Linked DNA regions of Homo sapiens: all the other regions are linked to region 2. Evidence: fine-mapped expression QTL. A gene starts in region 2. Each other region holds a variant in brackets. All regions are shown on one strand. Distances are from middle to middle. Region 1 overlaps FABP6 (fatty acid binding protein 6). Region 2 holds the start of CCNJL (cyclin J like). Region 3 holds the start of FAM200C (family with sequence similarity 200 member C).

Region 1 (5,226 bases), 78 kb before region 2:
TTCTTTTGCCTCAGCCTCTCAAGTAGCCAGTATTACAGGCACCTGCCACCATGCCCAGATAATTTTTTTGTATTTTTAGTAGAGACAGGGTTTTACCATGTTAGCCAGGCTGGTCTCGAACTTCTGACCTTAAACGATCTGCCTGCCTCGGGCCCTCAAGGAGCTGGGATTACAGGCATGAACCACCATACCTGGTCTTGAAAGTCTCATTCATTCCAGAACTTCGCGAGCTTGGCAAGATTCAGTTATATTTATATTACTATCAGAAGCTTGGTTATTATTGATGAGCACCCACCATGTGCCAGGAGCTTCACAAACACACTCACATTGAATATAATTCTTGTAACAGCCTTTTGGGATGGGCCTTATTATCTCCATATTGTGGATGAATAGACTGAAGCTCAGAGAGATAGGGACTTTCCCCAGCCACATGGCTCACAGCACGTATTAGCTGTCTCAGGCACTGTGCTCTTAACCTGCAGGCTAGCCTATCATGCACAAGGGGGTAGGGCGGTGGGGGTGGGCAGGAAAGCTCTTTTCCCAAACCACAGGGTTAAAAGCAGCTCTTATATGGCTACTCTGCTTGTCCCCGGGTCCAGGGATCTCCAGCGATGTAATCGAAAAGGCCCGCAACTTCAAGATCGTCACGGAGGTGCAGCAGGATGGGCAGGACTTCACTTGGTCCCAGCACTACTCCGGGGGCCACACCATGACCAACAAGTTCACTGTTGGCAAGGAAAGCAACATACAGACAATGGGGGGCAAGACGTTCAAGGTGAGAGGCCACTGGCTGTCCCCCTCCTTCCCCAGGCCTCCATCTGACTTCTCCTTCTCAAACATGGCCTCCCCGCTCCCGAGCTGAGGCTTCTTTCTCCAGTTTGGCCTCCAGCATTAGGAGCTTGAGTTACTTGGCAATTTAATGCTCCTGATTTTTAATGGTCAAACATGGGCACTAAAACAATAAGAAAAATAGCTAATACTTGCTGGACACTTATTATAAGCTAGACACTTGCTGAATAGTTTTTCCATCTTAATGCAGTTAATCCTATGAAATTGCTACAATTACTCTCTCCAGATTGATCGGGGAGGCTAAATCATGAGATTAAAAAGCTTGCTGGCCAGGCACAGTGGCTCATGCCTGTAATCCCAGCACTTTGGGAGGCCGAGGTGGGTGGATGGCTCGAGGCCAGGATTTTGAGATTAGCCTGGCCAACATGGTGAAACCCCATCTCTACCAAAAATACAAAAATTAGCTGGACATAGTGGTGCATGCCTGTAATCCTGGCTACTCAGGAGGCTGAGGCAGGGGAATCGCTTGAATCCAGTAGGCAGAGGTTGCAGTGAGCTGAGATCATGCCACTGCACTCCAGCCTGGGCGACAGAGTGAGAGTCCATCACACAAAAAAATAAATAAATAAAAATAAAAAAAACCTTGCCTTAGTTACACAACAGGGGCAGGCCTTTACACCAGGCACTAGAGAGCATAAGTGTTTTTTTTTTTTTATTCGAGACTCACTCTGTCACCCAGGCTGGAGTGCAGTGTCATGATCTCGGCTCACTGCAACCTCTGCCTCCTGGGTTCAAGCGATTCTCCTGCCTCAGCCTCCTGAGTAGCTGGGATTACAGGCGTGCACCACCACATCTGGCTAATTTTTGTATTTTTAGCTGAGATAGGGTTTCATCATGTTGACCAGGCTGGTCTCAAACTCCTGACCTTGTGATCCGCCCACCTTGACCTCCTAAAGTGCTGGGATTACAGGTGTGAGCCACCGTGCCCAGCCATAAGTGCTTTTTTTATGCTGCCTCTCTGTGTAGCACAGAGATAAAGACACTGGGCCCTGGAGTGAGCCTTGGCTGGGTTTGAAACCATGATTTCCCACCAGCAATTGTAGGGCCTTGGGCAAGTCATTTCACTCCCCTGAGCCTCATATCTCTAGTATGCAAAAGGAGACTACATACAATCTCTAGCTCCAAGAGCTGTGGTGAAGATTAAACAAGACAGTGCATGAAAGCACCTGGCATGTTGCCTGCCACATAATGAATGCTAGAAGAAAAAATGCAGTCATTTGCTTTTGTTTTAGAAGTGAAGAAACTGGCCGGGCACGGTGGCTCACGCCTGTAATCCCAGCGCTTTGGGAAGCCAAGGCAGGCAGATCACGAGGTTAGGAGTTCAGGACCAGACTGGCCAATATGGTGAAACCCTGTCTCTACAAAAAATACAAAAATTAGCCAGGCGTGGTGGCCGGTGCCTGTAATCCCAGCTACTCGGGAGGCTGAGGCAGGAGATCGCTTGAACCCTGGAGGCGGAGGTTACAGTGAGCCGAGATCACACCATTGCACTCCAGCCTGGGCAACAGGGCGAGGCTCCGTCTCAAAAAAAGAAAAAAAAAAAAAGAAGTGAAGAAACCGAGGCTCAGGGAGACCAAGTAATGTGTCTAGGGCCTTGCAGCTAGAACATGGTGGGACCAGGGATTTGAACCCCAGCTATTTGCCTCTATCATTAGGCCTCTGGTGACCCATGTGGAGTTCTAATAATAGAAAAGGAGTCAGGTTGGCGGCAGCAGGGTAAAGCAAAAAAGGAGAGCAGATAAGCTGTAAGTCTGCCTTTCTTCATGGTCCAGAACACATAGCCCTCCTGTGCAAATAACTCACAATCTTCCTGTGCCCAGCTATCATCACCTCCACTGATAGAAAAATGTAAGTTATCTCACCATAACCTTTGCTTTGTCAGTACTGCACAAAACCCGCTTCAGCACACAGCATAAGCAACAGTCTATAAACTCTCCAGCAAGACTTTGTCTCCTTGCAGTCAGCTCCTCTCTTGCTGTCCTGCCCAGTGCACCCTTGCAACATATTTTCATACTTTCTCTAAGAAATCTGACTTTTTTTTTTTTTTTTTTTTTTACCTACAACTGTCTTGGTAAATTCATTTTTTTTTTTTTTTTTGAGACAGAGTCTTGCTCTGTTGCCCAGGCTGGAGCGCAGTGCCACGATCTCTGCTCACTGCAGCCTCTGCCTCCCGGGTTCAAGTGATTCTCACGCCTCAGCCTCCCAAGTAGCTGGGATTACAGGCATGAGCCACCACACCGGGCTACTTTTTGTATTTTTAGTAGAGACGGGGTTTCACCACGTTGGCCAGGCTGGTCTCGAACTCCTGACCTCAAGTGATCCGCCTGCCTCAGTCTCCCAAAGTGCTGGGATTATAGGCATAAGCCACCGTGCCTGGCCTTGGTAAATTCTTCTTACTG[C/T]CCGCGCCACCAGCCCCAGATAGTTGCCAATCACCTGCAACAACCCAGGCTTAATGTTGTGCTTCCATTCCAGGCCACTGTGCAGATGGAGGGCGGGAAGCTGGTGGTGAATTTCCCCAACTATCACCAGACCTCAGAGATCGTGGGTGACAAGCTGGTGGAGGTGAGTGTCATGCTGATTCCTGGGATGATTATTGGATATTTGTCTGCCTCTTGGCCACAGCCCCTCAGAAGTAGGCCTCTACGCAGCTGGCTTTACCAGCACTTCCCTTGTACCAGGCTCTATGCTGAGTGCTGGATGCACATGATGTCATTTGGTCTTCAAAATAACCCTGTTAGGTGGGGATTTTTATCTCCATTTGAGGAGACTGAAGCACAGGGATAAGTGAGGGAGCACACAGATTTGACGACAGAGCTGAGGTTTGATGCTAAGTAGCCTGACTGCAGCACTCACACTCAACCGCTTCTGGGACACGAGACTGGAAGCCCGGAAGATCCTTCCCAGAATATAAATAAAGGAGGTGGTCCAGGTGGGCTCCTCAAAGGACAGCCACCACTCCATTCCTTTTCCATGAGGGACATCAGGCCCCTTCTACCAGATCTTCTGATTTATCAAGAGAAGTTGGAAATTTGCACTTCCGTGTGAAATCTCCACACTATTAAATATTGGCAACTAATTAAAAAAATTCTGTAAATATTGGCAGGTCCCACACACACATCTGGGGACCCACTCCTCCTACACTGGAGGTGGTGCCCTGGGAGGCCCTTCCTCTCACTTCTGTTGCTTTCCCGTGGGTCTCCAAGTTTTCCCCAGGTGGAAGGAATGAACGTGAGGTTAAAAGGGAAAAGAAGGCATTTCCATACTTCATTCCCTCACTGTGAGCCTGTGACCTGGGCCAGAGACCCTCTGGGGTCCCGTGTAGGTCTAGAAAGGGCCCTTCCCTCCTCCCTGAAGCTCTCCAGCAGGGAAGACATGATGAGGGAGGCAGTGTTTGTGTGACCCCTTTGCTTCTCCTTCTTTGATCCTTCTCTCTCTCTCTCTCTCATTCTCGCTTTCTTGTGCCCACATCTCAAGCCCTGTCAAGAGGAAAGGAGCACACTGCCTCTCTCAGACACTGTGGTGTAAATGATTTACACCACAGACACTTATTTCACACAGCTCTGGAAGCAGGAAAGTACAAGATCAGGGTGCCAGCATGGTCAGGGGCTTATGAGGGCCCCCGTCCTGGTTTCTTCACATGGCAGGGAGACGTCATCTCTCTCATGTCTGTTTTTTTTTTTTTTTTCGAAACAGAGTCTTGCTCTGTTGTCCAGGCTGGAGTTCAGTGGCATGATCTTGGCTCACTGCAACCTCCGCCCTCAGGTTCAAGCAATTCTCCTTCCTCAGCCTCCCCAAGTAGCTGGGATTACAGGAGCCCACCATCACATCTGGCTAATTTTTGTATTTTTAGTAGAGACAGGGTTTCACCATGTTGGCCAGGCTGGTCTCGAACTCCTGACCTCAAGTGATCTGCCCACCCTGGTCTCCCAAAGTGCTGGGATTACAGGTGTGAGCCACTGCACCAGGCCTTGTGTCTGTTGTTATGAGGGCACTAATCCTTCATGGGGACTCCACTCTCATAACTTAATTACCCCCTAAAGGTCCTATCTCCAAATACCATCACACTGGGGCTTTGACCTTTATCATATGGGTTTGGTGGGGGGACACACGCGCAGTCCATAAGATGGCCCAAGAGGTTCCGTGCCCTCCCATTATACTTATTTTACAGAGCAGCATTACAAGGCTCAGAGACAGCAAGGGACTTGGCCGTGGCCACACAACTAGTACATGCAGAGGCAGATCTCATCTGCTGACTTCTAGACTAGGCCCCCTGCCTCTTCTGCCCAGGCCCACGGGTCTTTTTATCCCCCTTTAACATTTTTGTTTAAATAATCTAAAAATTATCTGGGTGTGGTGGCTCAAGCTTCTAATCCCAGC
Region 2 (5,226 bases):
TTCAACTAAGAGTGTCTACTGTGTGCCACGCTCTTGTAAAGTTGTTCTACAGTGTTAGAAACATATTATCAGAGTAGACATTTGAGAAAAACAATTACCCTGTCTGAGAAAAACAAAATGCCAGCCCTCATTCCTCAAGAAAGGCGAGGCTAGTATGGCTACTAAGTTCCCCTATTCTTCACTCTTCTTGCCAAACTCCATGAAGCCAAATTTTTGAAGAAGCATTTTCTTCTTTGAAGTGGGAGAGGAAATAAAGTAAAGGAGAACAATAGCAGTATTTTGAGGAGGTGGGACATTATAACCAAAGGAACTTGGGATTTGTCCTAATAAGGCCAGCTTTAAGTCAAGGTTGACCTTGGCCATCAGTCCTTGGGTGAGCTTTCTATTTCTAACCTGCAAAACTGGGACAAACTCATCGTCTCTCCGAGGTGGGCAGCCCAATAGTAAACTCATACGGCACTATGACATGGCTATAGCAGTTCATGGAGCCTTTCTTGCTTCTTTGAGCAGCCGAAGGAACATTTAGGACATCCTCCCTTATGTATAAAAGGTTGGGCATTCTCAGGTAACTAAACAAATGGCATTTATTGCTCTTAGAAATCCTTCCCTCTAGAAAGGGGCAAATCAGGTAGAAGTCGTTCCTCCTAAGCTATGAGCAGAAATGACAACCACTTGAGTCTATGATAAACAAGGAAGCCCAATTTCCACGGCAGTCCTCACTAGCTCCATTCAGCCACCTCCTCCAGAAAAGGGCCAGGACCATACCCCTACCACTTTCCTTGCTTTTCAACTGAACCAACAAGACCTGGATTTCTTCTTGTCCAGATGCCTAGAATGTGCCACACGTTGGCCACTCTGTTCTGGGAAGAAGACCAAGGGAACAGATGAAAGCCACAGCCTTGCCAAGCAACGCAGGACAAAGACAGGTCAGCAGGTACAGAAAGAAAAGAAAAAGGCATTAATTGGACAGGAAGACAGCTACTCAATGAGGTAAAAACACTGAGTAGCTGGTGACCCTTTAAGCAGAACTCCTCCAGACACTCGGAGCAAATGCACTGACTGTGAAACCTGTGTGGGGGCTCAGGTACTGCACTAGGAAGACCTTTTCCTCCCTGTATTGGGCGCAGTAGTGTCCCCCCAAATGTCATGTTAATCTGGAACTTCAGAATGTGACCTTACTTGGAAATGGAGTCTTTTCAGATGTAATTAAATTATGATGACATCACATTGGATTAGGGTGGGTTCTACTCCAATGATCGGGTATCCTTGTAAGAAGAGAAAACAGACAGACAGATAGCACCATGTGACAGTGGAGGCAGAGACTGGAATGATGTACCTACAAGCCGAGGAATGCCAAGGATGACCAAGCACCAGCAAATTTAAGAAGGAAGAAGGAAAGATCCTTCTCTAGAGCCTTTTGAGAGTCATGGCCCTGCTAACACCTTGATCTGGGATCTTCAGCTTCCAGAGCTGAAATAAATTTCTGTTGCTTTAAGCCCTCCAGTTTGTGTGGTCCTTTGTAATGGCAGCCCTAGGAAACCAATCCATTCACTACTTCACACCTGTTCCCCAAGCCACCCCTTGCCAATCTCAGCCCAGGGACTGGAGGCAAGACACACAGGCCATGCCTCCAGCCCACCTGGACTCTTCCACCTTCCCAATGCCCCTCAGCCCTTCTCTCCTTGAGGGGAGGGGTGTGCAGGGATCACATTTCAGCTGCTCCCACCCACCTTCTGCCACAGGAGGCAAACCGGCAGGGGAGTTTTTGTTTTCTTCCCTCAGCCTCCCTGTTTTGTAGCCTCTTTCAATTATACAGGTGTTCCTTAAATTTCATTCGGTCCCATTCTAGATATACACATAGATACACGTATTTGGCCATAACCATGTATTCCCTGTACTACCACTTATCTTTATATAGAGTTACTACTTTTACTTAAATTTGTTTTAAAATAAACTGCGACATCATTATTACAATAAATGGAAAATCGCAAACGCAGAGCTTGCTAGATACATACACATTCTTAAATTACACATTAGAATGAATACACAATATTTTTTAAAGACCCCTTCACGTACGGTTTAAAATAACCTAGGGTGGCAATACTATAGGAAACACTGCCTTAGAGGTACAGTGGCTGTCTCTGACTAGTTGGCCCAGAGTTCTGAGCTCCTTATCAGAAAAACCAACTTCAATCTCTCCCATCTCCAGTCTCTAACCCCCGCCCCCCAATTCCGCTCAGACACTCCGGGAGAAGGTAAAGGGTAAGAGGAAAAAAAGGCACCCGGGAGTTCTGAGTTCCCACGCAGGCGACCTGAGAACACGAAGTCGAGACCGAAGGAGACTGTACCCAGTCTTGAGAGTGACAAGGGCAGGGAGGGACTGACCTTCTCGCGCAGGGTGCAGTGGACGTCCGAGGCGACGCGCCCTTCCCACCACGGCTCATCCATCATCGCGTACGCAGCGCCGCTATCCGAGGCTACCCGGCTCTCAGGGCGCACCCTGCGTGGACACGGGCAACTTCAGCGGCCAGAGCGTACCCCGGGCTCCGACCCCCGGTGTCCCTATCCTCTCTCGCCCCTGGCCCCGGGCCCCGGCGGGCGCCCCCTCCTGCGCCGCTCAGAGGAGCTGGAGGTCGCCTCTGGTCCGCGGAAGGCTGCGGTGCCCCCTCCCCTCTGCTCGCCGGACACGGGGCGATATGGAGCTGTGCAACAACTTGCAGAATTTTTATCTTCCCTTTTGCAAAAGTTGCAGAGAAAGTTGTCAACTCCGCTAGCTCGCTCGAGGCTGGGGCTCTGGCGGCGGCCACAGGCTCGCCGTCCCCAACTCCTCCCCCGCCGCCCAGCCTTTGTCCTGCTCCCACATCCTGCCCTCGAGCCGGGGCGAAACTCACGCATCCTCTCTGGGCGTGGGGGGCTGCGAGCGCCGGGCCCCTCCCAGTGCCGAGCCAGCCGTGCCCTCTGGTGCCTGCCGGCGGTTGGACCCTCGTCCGAGGCGCTCCGCACTCCCGACGGCCGCCTCCGCAGCCCGACTAGCCCCCGCCGTCGCCGCGCCCCTGCGTGCGCTCGGGTCCCGCCGCGGCTCGCAGGCTCCCGGCCGCCGGGGGCCTCCCTCCCTCGCTGGGGGAATTGGGGGCCGGGCCTCGCGCATGCGCTGCCGGCGCCCCCGCGCCCCGCGGGGCGGGGGGCTGGGAATTGGAGCCTTTCTTTGCCAGCTCTGGCTCCGCTTCCTGCCCGCCCTCCTCCCTCGCTTCGGCGGAAAGCTTCTCTCTCACCTTCGCTGAGGCTAGTGGTAGCCTTCTGGGCACCCCTCCGGCTTGCGCAGGGAGCAAAGGGACCGCGGCGCCACCTGCGCGCACCACGCGTGAAACGTGCGGACAGGACGCCCCCAGAAAGTTCTGCCTTCCGCGCGCACTGCTCTAGCCATCCTTACGTCGGTTCCACCTGTTTTTCTTTCTCTCTCTCTTTTTTTTTTTTTCCTGTTTTTGTTTTTTGTTTGTTCTCCTCTTCTTTGAAACCCGCCCTGCCATGGGGAGGTAGATTTCCAAACGGACAATTCCAGTGAAAGCTGCAGAAAAACCACCCTTGTTCACCCACGAGTCCCTAATTCTAAAGGAGCCTAAGTCACTGGTATTATTGTGCTCCTGCAGAATATGAACTATGCCTCACATTGGAGGAAAACCAGTCTTTTTTTGCCGGGTCCGGTGGATGGAAAACATTGTCTTTTTAATTCAATTGCTTGCTTTTGGAAAGTCATCCTTTTGAGTCAGCCCATCTGATGGCATAGCATTGGGCTATCCTTCTTGGCTGATTGATTTTTGTGATAGTTTTGGAGATTCACAAATTTGGAATCAAATCCACTTACCAACTGGGTGATTTTTGTCAAGTTCCTCAAACTCAGAGCCTCGTGTGTAAAATGGAAATAAAAGTTAAACCAACCTGCTGAAAATTAAAGGAGATAATGCGTGTAAAGGGATAATCACTACACCAGGTATTAAGTGAACACTCAGTAAACAACTGTGACTGAAGAGCCTTTAGTTTCTGACTGCTTTCCTGCACATAAAGACACACCTGGGAAAAAAAAATTAAATCAGCTTTGATAAGCTTCAATTGGACCTTGAAGAGCAGTTTTAATGTAAAACAAACGAACCATTTTAAAAGTGTAAGATACCTAAAAATAAACTGAATAAATGTGCAGGCTCTTAATGAAGACATTACAAAGGTTGAAACATAATAAAGAAGGCTTGAAGGAATAGAGGCACAAACACCAACTTAACCCAAATTACTCTATTTAATAAAATTTTAATGGTTGTGGGTAGATTGGAGGAGGGGGCACTTAACATGTTTTCTAACCTTCAAATGGGAGAATATCTGCGAGAAAAGCTAAGAAATTTATATTTTAAAAATGGGGGGATGGCGGGGCGCGGTGGCTCACGCCTGTAATCCCAACACTTTGGGAGGCCAAGGGCAGGCAGATCACCTGAGGTCAGGAGTTTGAGACCAAACTGGCTAACATGGTGAAACCCTGTTTCTACTAAAAATACAAAAAATTAGCCGAGTGTGGTGGTGCACGCCTGTAATCCCAGCTACTTGGTAGGCTGAGGCAGGAGAGTCACTTGCATCTGGGAGGCGGAGGTTGCAGTGAGCCGAGATCGTGCCACTGCACTCCAGCTTGGGCAACAAGAGTGAAACTCCGTCTCAACAAACAAACGAACAAAAAAACTGGGGGGACAGACCTGTATTATCAAATCTTAAAGCATATTGCAACACTATAGTTAAAACAGTGTAGTGTTCACACAAGAATGGATGGATTAAGCATCAGTGGAATAACTGAAAGTCTAGGAAAATTTAATATATTTAAAAATTCACTGTATGATAAATGTGGCATTTCACTTTGTTGGGACAAGTATAAACGGCTAAATTATTTAATAAATTAGGTTGGGGGAAAAAAGTAAAACTAAGGACTTGTTTAAATATCACCAAAATAAATATAAGAACTCAGAGAACTACAAACAAGCAAATCACAAGAGGATAAGAAGAAAACATACACGAATTATACGGAGGGGAAGGCCTAGATACTAAGACATGGGAAGAAACCAAAGGCAAGGTGAGTAGACAAATTTGAATAAATATGCAGGATCTAGATACATCAATTATCATTGCCAAAAAGGCAAACGACAAATTTGAGAAAATATTTTTAACAAATGTGACAAAAGGTTGATGCTACTT
Region 3 (5,226 bases), 89 kb after region 2:
CATTACAAGATCTGTTAAGAGTCCATTCCTATCCACCTTGACTATGTCTCTCAAGTATATTTTAATTTAAAATTTATCTGTTTTGAACAGTTTTAGGAAAATCAATTTAAAGTATTCTTCTCCATAACCCTCAAAAAGGGAGAACAGGTGGCAAGAATTTTCAAGGGCCTCAAAGATGAACTTACTGCCCAAGAGGCTTGTGTTTTAGAACCTCACAATTTGCACTTGCGCTTTTGTGGTATTTAGGAATTACAATATCCTAAAAAACGTAAACATTAAAAAGCATCATGATAAGGAGATATTGTTAAACAGGCATGATAATGGTATTGTGGTTGTGTTTTTAAAAAGTCCTCATTTGTTAGATACAGACAATTATTTACAAGTGAAATAAGATGTCTGGGATTCCTTTGAAATACGTACTTCAGCACACTCACAAACATGCACAAAGCGGGGTGGAGATAAAAGAAATGACTGGCCTTAAGTTGGTAACTCTTGAAGCTGGATGATGGGTATACATCATTACACCGTTCTATTTTAATGTATTTTGGAAACTTTCCATAATAAAAAGATAAAAAGCATTATCTTAAGATAGATATCACTCATTTTAAGCATGATTCTTTTGAGAGATTATCTTCAGATGCTTAATGAAAGATCTGATATAACAAAGTAAAATGTTTTTGCAAGTTTATGAAGGGTAGATATGAAAAAGTATTACAAATGAGAAAAATCAGTTAAAAGTGAACACTCACAAAACAAATATTTAGGGAATGCTAATATATATATATTCCAGCAGTGAAAACACCAAAGTGCAGCTGTAAACCTAAAACTCCAAACCAAATACAATTCAACTTCTTTCTAGCCACTGCGTATGCAAGATCATGATAGGCGCAGGTGTCTGGGGAGGCAGAGCATTTAACCATTACATTTTACAGTTAAAATCAATAGCCAGGAGAATGGGGGCAGGAACTTGGTGGCTGGGCAGACGCTCCAGGGGCAAACGCCTGGGATCGTGGCTTTGTCACTTACAGGATGGGACCTTTCCAAGCCTCAGTTCCTCCAGAGGGGATAACAGTACCTACCTTACAGGGTTGTTAGGAGATTTAATTATAAGAATGCATGCAAATAACAAGCAGCTCTTAACTGATAGGACCTGATGGTGTTACTGTTAAGGACGGAGATTTTTACAGCCTCCCGGGTGAGATAAGAACGCCAGCTGCTAGGAAAAAAAAAAAAAAGACTCAGCGCGGTCTCCGCCCGCCCGTCTCCAAGCCTGAGGCGCAGGCCTATGGGATGCACGGGCTTCTTTTAGGCGCCCGTTTCAGGCTCCAGTCCCACTCTCCGCTCAGCCTAGGGCCCAGCCTCTGGCCGTCGGAACCAGTAGAGACGGCGGTTCCTCGGGTCCAACCCCCGGGCAGGAATCTGCGGTGCGCCTGGAGAGAGAAGCATCCGCAACAACCTCCGCCTCAGCCAGGCCCGGGTTCCATCCGGGTTCTCCAGGGTGCTTCCCGCCCGCAAACTGGGAGAGGCGTCTCCCACACGCAGGCGCAGTAGCAAAGGGCTGTGGGATGGGCTGGCTGGCTTGAGTATTGAGCATGCGCGCTAGCCCTTCCCAATTTTTTTTTTAAGATTGTGTACGTGGAACAAGAAATCGTTTGTTTATTGTGTCTGCCAGAGAGGATGAACTGTACAATTTCAGGAATGGAAGGGGCTGTAAACTCCACATAGTTCTTTTTAACATGCAGAGCACTTAAACTTTTATATTGTGTCGGGCTTTGAGCTTGGAGATAAAACGCCTGATAATTGCCATGTTCCATGTGGAATAAATGAGAGAAAAAGAGAAGGAAGCTCATTGTAATTTCAGATTAGACATTTCAGCAGTGGAGGATGAGCTTCCATAGCTTGTGTACTGTTGCCTATGCAAGCTGATCCCACTTTCCGTAAGTGGGAGCATAGGGATGAATTTCCATGTCATCATCATATATCTGAAATATTTTTATTTTAAATTCTTTCAACAACATGATTTCAAAGAAATAAACCCATATTAGAGAGGTTTTAGAGAAAAATCCCAAGTAGAAACTAGGAAACGTTGTTGAAAGAAACCGGAATATAGCCCTTTCCTGTTTGGGGGTCTTTCCAGAATTCTTATAAACTTAATGAGTTTACTCATTTTTGTACAATCTTGTTAGAAGCATTCCATAAGACTAGTGTGTGTGAGGAGTGGTGGGGCGTCAACGAATGTGGGCCAGATACATCATTTTCAGGTGTTAAGGGTGAGCCTGGTAAATATTGACGGGCTGCTGAAGTTTTTTGTGGATGGAAGAAACTGCTAAAGACCAGCCTTGTTGGTCAAGAAATTAGGGCCTTCAATACTAGAGAAAGGGGTAGGCTTCAGAATCCCACAGCTAGCTTCATGTCCTGACTCCAACGGTTAGGATTTGTGCAGGTTACTTGGAGTTAATTCCATGTGCTTTTTGTAAAACTTACATATCATCCATTACCCCATGAAATTCTTTTGAGGAAGGAGATAACATTATGACAATTACAGTACATAATTCTCGCACTCAAAAGGCAGCTATTATTGAGATAATAAAATCAAAGCTCAATCTGAGTAATGTCCTAGGCATTATGTTTTTTTCTTTTTTTTTTTTTTTTTTTTTTGAGACAGGGTCTCATTCTGTTGCCCAGGCTGGAGAGCAGTGGCGCAATCTCAGCTCACTGTAACTTCTTGAACCGGGTTCAAGCAATTCTCATGCCTCAGCCTCCTGAGTAGCTGGGATTATAGGCGTGTGCCACCATGCCCAGCTAATTTTCGTATTTTTCATAGAGACAGGGCTCTGCTATGTTGGCCAGGCTGGCTAGGCATTACTTTTCCAAAATAAAACAGAAGACATGATTCTGGATATTACAGAATTCTTCCTAAATCTAAGTAAACCAGGCCTCATAGAAGAGGGAAAGAGGTCCAGAAAGGTTAGGTGACAAGATGCTGAAATTTTCTTAAACTCACAGAAGCTAATCCAGGTTCCCCTCCCTGTCCCATAAACAACTTTTCTGCCAAATATTA[G/A]AAATAATGCTACAAACCACTCACAGTTAAGTATTGTCATTTATGTATCTTTAACAAAAGATAAAATACAAAACGGACACAACATCAGCCTTTATGTTGAACCACCCTGTTTAGGTAGGAAAATGAACATTGTTTTTCATTCTTAAAGTAAATAGGAATTAAATCTATTTGCATTGCTGTTTAATTTCATACCAATCTAAAGCTCGACACTATGTATATCCAAAGTACTTGACAATTTGACTCAGTTACTCACACCACTGTTTCTGAGATGCTGACTTAATGCAGTATCCTACAGGTGGTTTTTGGTAGTTTAGAAAAGCCAGTGAGTGGGCTGTTAAAAGTTGATATACTGATGTCAGAGGTTTTGTTAGGCTGTTTTCACTGATTCTACTGTCAGTATTATCTTCACAGTGTTCTGAGAAGAGGCTTCAGGATCATGGCAATCTATTACTAATATCCCTAGAAGCTATCCTTATAATTCTTTCAATAAACCAACTTCAGGTTTTGTTTTTTTGCAAATTTTACAAACAAAGTAACAGCTGCTGGCTATAAATATTAGGATATTCTACAATTTAAAAAATCTAATATTCATGATTGTTACATAGGGGCAATCACAATGAAAACAAACGGTAATGTAAACCATATCCTCTATGATAAAGGAAAGGATTTCTACACCTAGACTTATGTCCAGAATGGTAAAAGACCTACTACTGATCAGTCAATATTGACCCAATGATGAGAAAATAGTTGTTTTCCATTCAAAGACTAACACATTTAGTCTACTCCAGAGGCCAAGGAAGAGAGAATCGCTTGAGCCCAAGACTGCAGGGCATTATGACTTTGTCTGTGAAAAGCCACTGCTCTCTAGCCTGGGCAACATAGCAAGATCCTGTCTCTAAAAAAAATAAAAATAAATGTAGTCACAGAGTTGCTAGTAATTATTTAAAAAAACAAAGCCCTGTTTTTTTCTCAAAACCAAGGTGTGCTAATACTAAATATAGGGCCACAAAAATCGAAGCAATAAAGTTTGAAGCTTAATAAATACAGAGAAAGAGACATTCTTAATAGGTAGAGAGCCAAGGCTTTTTTACATGACTCACATAAAACTGGAAATAGGCCAGGCGCGGTGGCTCACGCCTGTAATCTCAGCACTTTGGGAGGCTGAGGCGGGTGGATCACAAGGTCAGGAGATCGAGACCATCCTGGCTAACACGATGAAACCGTCTCTACTAAAAATACAAAAAATTAGCTGAGCATGGTGGCGGGCGCCTGTAGTCCCAACTACTAGGGAGGCTGAGGCAGGAGAATGGCGTGAACCTGGGAGGTGGAGCTTGCAGTGAGCCGAGATCGCGCCACCGCACTTCAGCCTGGGCGACAGAGCAAGACTCCGTCTCAAAAAAAAAAATAAATAAATAAAAAAAACTGGAAATAAAATCTTAATCCAATTTTAAATTCTATTCCCAAAAGCACACTTCATGTGCCTCTTCTTCTTTTCTTGTTTCCTCAGTATGGAAAGGAGTGAACTTACTGTGAGGCATCTGAAATATTTATTAAAGCCAGGCAGCAAGAAGAATAAACAAGGATTTTTCTATCTACAATCATCAATAAGAAGCTGAAAAGAATGTATCAGCTGCATCTATCTTGGATGGTCTTCTGACTAGTTGCTACTGTCCAAGGAAAGAGGCCATGGGGTCATCTGGCCTCTGACGTTTCATTCTATATGCCTCCATTTCCTCTTCAGTAGGTTCTCGAGTTTCATACATGCTATTGTAAGGCCGCTTCCTCTCATCAATCTGCATGGTCTCCTTGACATGAAGAAGGCGGGCCTCCTCTGCGTTCAGTGCCTATAGTGAGAGGAATAAAATGTGTATCACAGCTCTACATCAGATGTCTTTTCTTCAAAAGTGGCAGAGTACCAACACACCCCACTGAATATGAACTGCTCTATCAAAAACGCAGATTGCCTGAAAGAGCTTTGGAGTCAGCCCTTCTACTGTCAAGCTACAACTAATCACTATTTGGCTTATATGATATTTTTATACAGCACAAAACATTCTATAACATTTTAAATCAATGTTGAAGAAATTTTATTTAATAACAAAAATTAAATGAGGTTCACTTTACTTATACAAGCTCACAAATGATGCTTCTGGTAGAGACTACAA

Evidence for each region. PIP is the estimated chance that this variant, and not a neighbour inherited with it, causes the effect. A credible set is the group of variants that fine-mapping cannot tell apart.
Region 1: its variant is the best candidate, but not a certain one, in a credible set for the expression of CCNJL in left ventricle (GTEx, PIP 0.61).
Region 3: its variant is the best candidate, but not a certain one, in a credible set for the expression of CCNJL in whole blood (TOPMed, PIP 0.52).

Annotation. Positions count from the first base shown.
Region 1 is chr5:160,231,499-160,236,724 of GRCh38, forward strand. It overlaps FABP6 (fatty acid binding protein 6), which reads left to right. Exons shown (of 4, transcript NM_001445.3): 2 at 600-775; 3 at 3,322-3,411. Among named protein-coding and RNA genes, the nearest start is that of FABP6, 4.6 kb to the left of the region's middle. RefSeq lists a silencer at 1,902-1,951. The variant C/T (reference allele first, on the strand shown) is at 3,249.
Region 2 is chr5:160,309,473-160,314,698 of GRCh38, forward strand. CCNJL (cyclin J like) reads right to left here and starts at 3,092. Exons shown (of 6, transcript NM_001308173.3): 1 at 2,892-3,092; 2 at 2,386-2,500. The coding sequence starts at 2,451. RefSeq lists silencers at 3,021-3,140, 3,251-3,310.
Region 3 is chr5:160,398,560-160,403,785 of GRCh38, forward strand. FAM200C (family with sequence similarity 200 member C) reads right to left here and starts at 1,495. Exons shown (of 2, transcript NM_022090.5): 1 at 1,080-1,495. SLU7 (spliceosome associated SLU7) reads right to left here. Exons shown (of 16, transcript NM_006425.5): 16 at 3,082-4,905. The coding sequence ends at 4,726. RefSeq lists enhancers at 1-136, 456-1,141, 1,035-1,184. The variant G/A (reference allele first, on the strand shown) is at 3,062.